Linked DNA regions of Homo sapiens. The protein of the gene in region 1 interacts with the protein of each later gene in a biochemical or structural test. Each region holds a gene or a part of one and is shown in the gene's direction. Other genes may lie near its edges.

Region 1 (3,825 bases):
ACAGTTCTCCTTGGGGAGCCACACTGGGTCCTCCAGGCCCCAGGCTGGTGTCCTCTCAGCCATCTTCTTGTTTGGAAGTCAGGGGGGGTGTTTTAGGGACAAAGACATTTCCAGTCACTGCAGTTTCCTTTGGTTCAGTGAATTTTGCCATCATAGCACCTCTTCAATTCAGAGAGAGGGAAGAAAAAGTGCTGGCACCTCAGCCCTGATCCTGCTACAGGGATGAGCCTCTTGAGATGCCAAGATTATTTTTTTTCTGTTTATGTCATTTCTGATTCCCGGTTGTTAGAAAACAAAGTTCAGATCATCTCTGAGACTGATGATGCAGTATTCCAGAATAAAAGAGCTATACCTCCTCTCCTCACATGCACTTTTCCCCTCCTCTGGCTTAGAGTACATTGCTGACTCTACAGTCATACTCTGGGCTATTGTCCTTTGAGGTGGGACATAGCTTTACAAGGAGGAGGCATGGAGACACCAGGGCCTTCTTTTTTCACCTTCCACCTCCCTATACAGTGAACTCCTCATTGATTTCAGGTCTCTCTGCTCCTGTGCAGTCTTGTCAATACTTGAGGAATCTTACTATTATTGGATTCAATGCCCAAGAAGAAGGAAAGCAAACACTCTATCCTAAAATCAGATTACAAAGAGATTCAGAAATTACACTCAACATGAGCTCTTCCCTCTGGGGTGACAGCTGCTTGCTGCTGCTTATTTCAGAGTGCAAAGGAGGCAGAGAGAGCTCTGGAGACAGAGCTGCTGCTGCCTGTGCAGAATTGTACAGGCCATCAACAGTTTTTCTACTGAGTTGAGTTTGTAAGTGGTTTTATGCTATAGGAACCAGCCAGTATTATGAGCAAGGCAGCACACCTGTTATAAAAGTGTAGAGATGAAAGTCTGGGTTGGTGTCAGTGTCACTGTGACCCTTGCAGATACCCAGAAGGATGTCTTTCTCCTTGGTCTGTCTTTGGGATAAAGCACTGTCTCAAGAAATTCCCCCTATTAAAATGCTGAAATGCAAAGTTGTTAGCTCAGCAGGTACCACTGATGATTAACATCATTAACAGCTGAGCAGAGCCTATTACTGAAGGAACAGGAATTGGGTTGGAGAAAGGTGAGAGCACATGAGGGCATTGCTGAGAGGGGCAAGCCTGAGTAGGGCACCGCATTGGTGCTTGGGGAACCTTGAGTAGGAAATATACATCAAAGCACAGGAATCTAGGTTCTGGAGATGGCGGTTCAGACTCCATCTTTATTTAGACCTTTGAGCAGAGGAGAAGAAGGCTTGAGTTACCTGGGAGAAAGTGGCCAACCTTCAGGCATTCAGAAGAGCATTATTCACCATCAAGACTGGTGCTAATACATACTTTGTTTTAAATAATTCATAATCAGAGAAAACAGTAAGATAAGGTGACTCTACATCAAAACGAGAACTAAGGTGCCTCCTTCCTGAAGTAGAAAAGTGTTTGAGAGACAAAACCTCATTATCAGTTATTGTATTCATTAACACGTCACTCATACTAATCCCAAGCAAATGCTCCAGAGCCCCTGAAACCATTTCAAAGCAATTCCTATAGCAAAAAAGGGAAAGTGCTAAGGGGAGCTGCTTATCCCCTAACAGAGCAAATAGAAAAAGCTCTTACTGGAAGGTAAAGGCATTGCACCCGACCAGTGACAGGTACTGGCATCAACTCTGAAAATTTCACAGTTGAGTTCTCTAATGGGGCTGGGCAGAGAGAGCTAGTCAGCGGGACTACAGGAAGGAATGGAAAGTTCTCCATCAATGGCACATAAATGTCCACAGTGTGAGAAGAGAAGTATTGATTTGAATCGTGTTGCTCTATACCATGGACCAGATCCAGACTGTAAATAATACCGGGGCAGAAGGAGAGATCCCGTTGGCTACCACATCATATCGACCAGAAGCCGAATCCAAGAGATCAGATCAAAATAGGACAGCTGGTCTTGGAGTAGCATAAGCCCCTCCTAAGTCCCTTCTCAGTCACCCAGGACACTTGGCTATTGTTCCAATTTAGGACAGTGGTTTTCCTCCAAGTAATCCTCTCTTCTGTCCAGGCTGGCTAGAAGAGAACAGTTCAAGAATAAACTATAGTGAGGTCTTGAACAGATCTCATCTCTTTGCAAGAGGCATTTTAGGAGAAAAATATAGCAAAGAACATACTAGTCAAATGATGGGTAAAGTCAGAGGTAAAGCGTTTGCTATATTTGGCAGCATTTCTATTGCCAGATGCCTGTGAGATTGCCTGCCCTTCCCAGGTCCTAGTTCAACCATTTGTAAAGGCATGGTAATAATTAATGATTACATCTCAGAGATGTCCTGAAGAAACTCCACATTTCCTCCAGGAGAACTAGATATGTAAATCTGGAGAGAGTAGCTTGGAATAATAGTTGCCCTATTCCCTGAAAATGTTTCCGTCAGCCTAAAGTATGAGCCATACATTAGGAACTCCAGGAACACAGGGGTCTTAAATTTGGTTTACGCCAAGTTCTCAGGTACCTACAGATTGGAAAGTTCACAAATCTAAACACTTTGGGGTCAAGCAGGTAGCTAAATGTGTAAATCAGGCTTTATTTGCAAATAGAGGCGGGCCTGATCTGTACGTTCAAATAAAAAAATTCTCAACACTGCCAGTCAAGCAAAACACATCTGCAGCAAGATTCTGAGCTGCCTACCATTGTGCAGCTGCAAATAAGCACTCCAAATCTGTTTGAATGAAAGCACTCCCTAGAATGCATGAATATTTTCATGATAGGATCAGGCTCACAATACACATCATGGTCCTTGGATAAAAATGTCAACCTTAAAGACAGTGTATCATTTATCACAGGGTATAAAAGAGAGATTGGCAGGCAGACAGATTAATGGGCTTAATAAATGATAGGCTTTATCATCAAAATGAATTCAGATCTTGCTAGTCTTTAAAACACCCTTTAAAATCATCATATGGATGTAGACATCATGAAATCTAAAGAAAGCAGGGTGTGCATTCAACATGTATTGACCAATTACTCTCCACCCAGCCTTAAACAAGTTACTGGAAGTTACATAGATGAAAAAGACATCTTAATGTTTGTTGTTTTTGACAGCTCAGGGTCAAGAGGGAGCTCAGACTTACTTTGAGGTAGCAAGGATATCAGTCACTTCAGATGACTTTATAACAATTAATTTAACTTTTCCATGTTTCTATGGTACAAAAATTTTCCTGTTGAAAGGTATGACCTTGGGGAAGTTTCCTTACTTCTGTTCTTGTTTTCTCATGTTAAATGAGGGTCATAATAGTGCCTATCTGAGAGGATTGTTGCAAGGATTAAATGAGTTCATCCATGTGAGGTACTTGGAACAGTGCTCAACATATAGTAAATCCTCAATAAATATTATTTATTATTGTCTCAACAAAACAGTGTAAACATTGACATTAGTCACACTAGCTATTCCAAATGTCATTGCACAGTCATTTTATTATTGGAAAGTACAAAGGGACAATCCCCTGGGATTATTCCATAGTCTTGATTCCTGGCATTCTGCTTCACTCTAAATATGAGCAGGCTTTGTGAATGGAAATGAGCCTGCAATGTTCATGGCCTTGGGAGTACAGATTGGGAGGTCAGTTCTCTGAGCGTCTACTTTGCAAAGCCTCTTGATGCAAATGCTGATTGACTTCTCCCTGGGCAATTTTAAATTCCTCACGTCAATAGATGGGCAACATGATTTGGAGAATCCACAGCTACACAAAAATTCATCATCTTTGCTTTGGGGAGACATTTTTTACAACTTATGTCTTAAGTGTAGAAATTAACCTCTCT
Region 2 (3,825 bases), on another chromosome or scaffold:
TAAAAAATTTCTAACAGTTAGAAATGTCATCAAGGACTTCAGCCTAGAGCTGAGAATAGAGATGCAAACTGTGGCCCAAATAGCTTTCCCTGGGGGATTTTTAACTTTTAAGGAGAAATTGGAGAATTTGAGATGCAGAGTCAATATATGACTGTAGTATTAGGACTCTTTCAGTAACAGGGGACAGAACCCCAACTCAAATGGATTTAAACAGAAAAGGGAATGAATTGACTGAAGCAATGTGAGGAGTCCAGGGCTGCTTCAGGCATGGCTAGATCAAGGGGCTCAAATGAGGTTCACACAGCATTTCTTGACTCTTTTCTTTTTTGTTGGCTTCATTCTCAGACAGGCTCTCCTCATATAGGCAAAGATGGGTTCTGGAAGCCCTGGGCTGCCATCCTACCAGCTTAGCAACCTTGGAAGGAAAAGAGCTCTTCTTTTCAGCTACTTTCAGTTGAATGACTCTTTTTATACTTGATAATGTAAACTTTTATTTATTTTATTTTTTGAGATGAGGTCTTGCCATGTTGCCCAGGCTAGTTTTGAACTTCCGGGCTCAAGTGATCCCTGCCTCAGCCTCTTAAGTAGCTGGAATGGCAGGCACACATCACTGTGTCTGCTATAACAGAAACTTTTAAATGAAGTCTAACATAAAAAGTGCCCAAATCCAAAGCATACAGTTCAATGAATTTTCACAAAGTGAACACACCAATACAGATAAAAAATAGAATATTACCAGCTCCCAGCCTGGTGTGGTTGTACCCACCTGTAATCCCAGCACATTTGGGAGGCAAAAGTGGGAGGATCACTTGAGCCTAAGAGTTCAAGACCAGCCTGGGCAACAGAAGGAGACCCCATCTCTCCAAAAAATACGAATAAATGAGCCAGGTGTGGTGCAGCAGGTGTGTAGTCCTAGCCACTTATGCCCGCTGCTGTTTCTTGGCACTGAGATGGTGAGGGCCCTGCTGCTGCTGCTGCGCCCCTGATTCAGAATCTACCTTCCTCTCTTCTCATAAAGTGCTGTCCTAGCACTTGTGTGTCCCAGTCCTTTGGTGGCCTGCTCAGGGATAAGCTGGTAGACCAGTTTCCAGTAAAGTGGTACCAGCTGATGAAGGCTGGCTGGGTCTCTTCCTCTAGCTAACATTTGCATTTTAAGCCTGATTTTCAAGTCTGGAAAGCTGAATATAATTCTGAATACACTGAGGACATATGGCTCAAATTTTTGCTCTACTGCGTGACTCTGGAAAAATATGTAAGCTCTCTGAGCCTCAGCTTCCTCATCTGTACAATGGGGATAGTAAATGTGCCAAATCAGAACAAATGCTAATGCTTACCTGCAGTCTTGTACTGAGAAGGATGGTGAGATCATATCTTGGGTTGGTAGGAAAGCATTCAGGGATTGATTAGTGATGTTTGCCTTGAACACAGGTTAAGAAAGTGATGGCATGTGTGCTGTGTGTTTGTCATCAGTAGATTAGATGATTTCTAAGTTCTAGCTGTAAGCTCCTCTGGTTCAGCGCCATGGCAATGAGAAAGAATCAAGGGCAAGGTCAGGGGAATGGACGTGGGAAGGTGAGAGTGGCCAGTACCCCACTCACGGCTTTCTGTGCCTGCAGAGTTCACCCATGCAGGGCAGGGAGGGCTGATTGAAGAGCCCACAGGTGATGAGCTACCAACCAAGAAGGGGCGGAGGAACCGTTTCAAGTGGGGCCCAGCATCCCAGCAGATCCTGTTCCAGGCCTATGAGAGGCAGAAGAACCCTAGCAAGGAGGAGCGAGAGACGCTAGTGGAGGAGTGCAATAGGTACAACGGCGGGCGGGAAACAGTGCTGGTTTGGTCTGGGCTGCGGCAAGGCCAGGGAAGGGGAAGGTGACTCTAGGTCCTGTAAAAGGCTGTCCAGTTGCCGAGAACTCCTGATATTGGCTTAGCCTGGCCCAGAAAATTGAGAATACTTGAACCTAAGCCCATTCCTCGCAGCCCCCCTGCACCCTGGACACCAAGCAACCCCTTCCATGGATGCTCACCCAATTCGATTCTCTCTACAATCCTATGGCTCTTTTGCTCACTTTATGAATGGAGAGACTGAGGTCAGACAGACTGTCAATTGCCCAAGGTCACACAGCAGACCTGGCATTGGAACCCAGATCTGCCAGCCTCAAACCCTCCGGCAGAGCTCAGCTTCTCAGAACCCTCCCCTTCATGCCCAGGACAGGGTTCCTCTGAGCCTGGCCTGGAGGCTCATGGGTGGCTATTTCTGCAGGGCGGAATGCATCCAGAGAGGGGTGTCCCCATCACAGGCACAGGGGCTGGGCTCCAACCTCGTCACGGAGGTGCGTGTCTACAACTGGTTTGCCAACCGGCGCAAAGAAGAAGCCTTCCGGCACAAGCTGGCCATGGACACGTACAGCGGGCCCCCCCCAGGGCCAGGCCCGGGACCTGCGCTGCCCGCTCACAGCTCCCCTGGCCTGCCTCCACCTGCCCTCTCCCCCAGTAAGGTCCACGGTAAGTGGTATGTGGGGACAAGGGACACGTGGGAAGGTGGGAGGGTTGGGGAGGACTGTCCCAGTGACAGCAGTCACCTAAACCTCTTTGCACTTCAGTTTGGTTCCATTCCATTCATGCCACTCCTTATCACTCTACTTCACTCTGTTCATTCATCCATTCCACTCTATCTCATTCCATTCACTCTACTCCTTTCCACTCTATTCACTCCATCCACCACAATTAACCCCATTCCATCCACTCCATCCACTACCTTCGACTCCACTCCATCCACTCTACTCCATTCACTCCACTCAACTCCACTCCATCCACTCCACTCCGTCCAACTTCATCCCATCCACTACATTCAACTCCACTCCATCCACTCTACTCCATCTACTACCTTCAACTCTACCCCATCCATCCACTCCACTCCATCCATTCCATCCAACTTCATCCCATCTACTACATTCAACTCTACTCCATCCACTCCACTCCATCCATTGCATCCAACTTCATCCCATCTACTACATTCAACTCCACTCCATCCACTCCACTCCATCCATTCCCTCCAACTTCATCCCATCCAGTACATTCAACTCCACTCCATCCACTGTACTCCATCTACTACATTCAACTCTACTCCATCCACTCCCCTCCATCCATTCCATCCAACTTCATCCCATCTACTACATTCAACTCCACTCCATTCATTCCACTCCATCCATTCCATCCAACTTCATCCCATCCACTACATTCAACTCCACTCCATCCACTCCATACCTGGCTCCATCCACTCCACTCCATCTACTACATTCAACTCTACTCCATCCACTCCATACTCTATTCCATCCACTTACTCCATCCACTCCATTCAGCTCCACTCCATCCACTCCACTCACTCAACTCCATCTACTCCACTCCCTCTACTTCATTCAACTCTGCTCCATCCACTCCACTCCACCCATTCCATCCACTGCACTCCAACCAGCTCCATTAGACTCCACTCCATCCACTCTACCCACTCTTCTCTCCACTCCTCTCCACTACATACCATTTTATTCTATCTGTCCCATCCACTCAACTCCATTCACTCCACATGACTCCACATTTCATCCATTCCACTCTACTTCATCCACTCACTCCACTCTATACCATTCCACTCCACTCTATTCACATACTCCACCATTCCAGTCTACTCCATTCACTCCACTCCAACCCACTCACTCCACTCCATACCATTCCACTCCACTGTGTTCACACAACTCCATCCATTCCACTCTAGCCACTCCATTCATTCCACTCCACGCCACACTATTCCTCACCATTCCATCCACTCCACCC

The links.
Region 2: the proteins of RYR3 (region 1) and HNF1A form a complex in vitro, tested with the Homo sapiens proteins (one large-scale study listed by BioGRID).

The regions. Positions count from the first base shown.
Region 1 is NC_000015.10:33,317,399-33,321,223, forward strand, and holds part of RYR3 (ryanodine receptor 3), read left to right. Parts: intron 1-3,825. UniProt on the Homo sapiens protein: Cytosolic calcium-activated calcium channel that mediates the release of Ca(2+) from the sarcoplasmic reticulum into the cytoplasm in muscle and thereby plays a role in triggering muscle contraction. May regulate Ca(2+) release by other calcium channels.
Region 2 is NC_000012.12:120,991,904-120,995,728, forward strand, and holds part of HNF1A (hepatocyte nuclear factor 1-alpha), read left to right. Parts: intron 1-1,616; coding exon 1,617-1,803; intron 1,804-2,260; coding exon 2,261-2,502; intron 2,503-3,825. UniProt on the Homo sapiens protein: Transcriptional activator that regulates the tissue specific expression of multiple genes, especially in pancreatic islet cells and in liver. Binds to the inverted palindrome 5'-GTTAATNATTAAC-3'.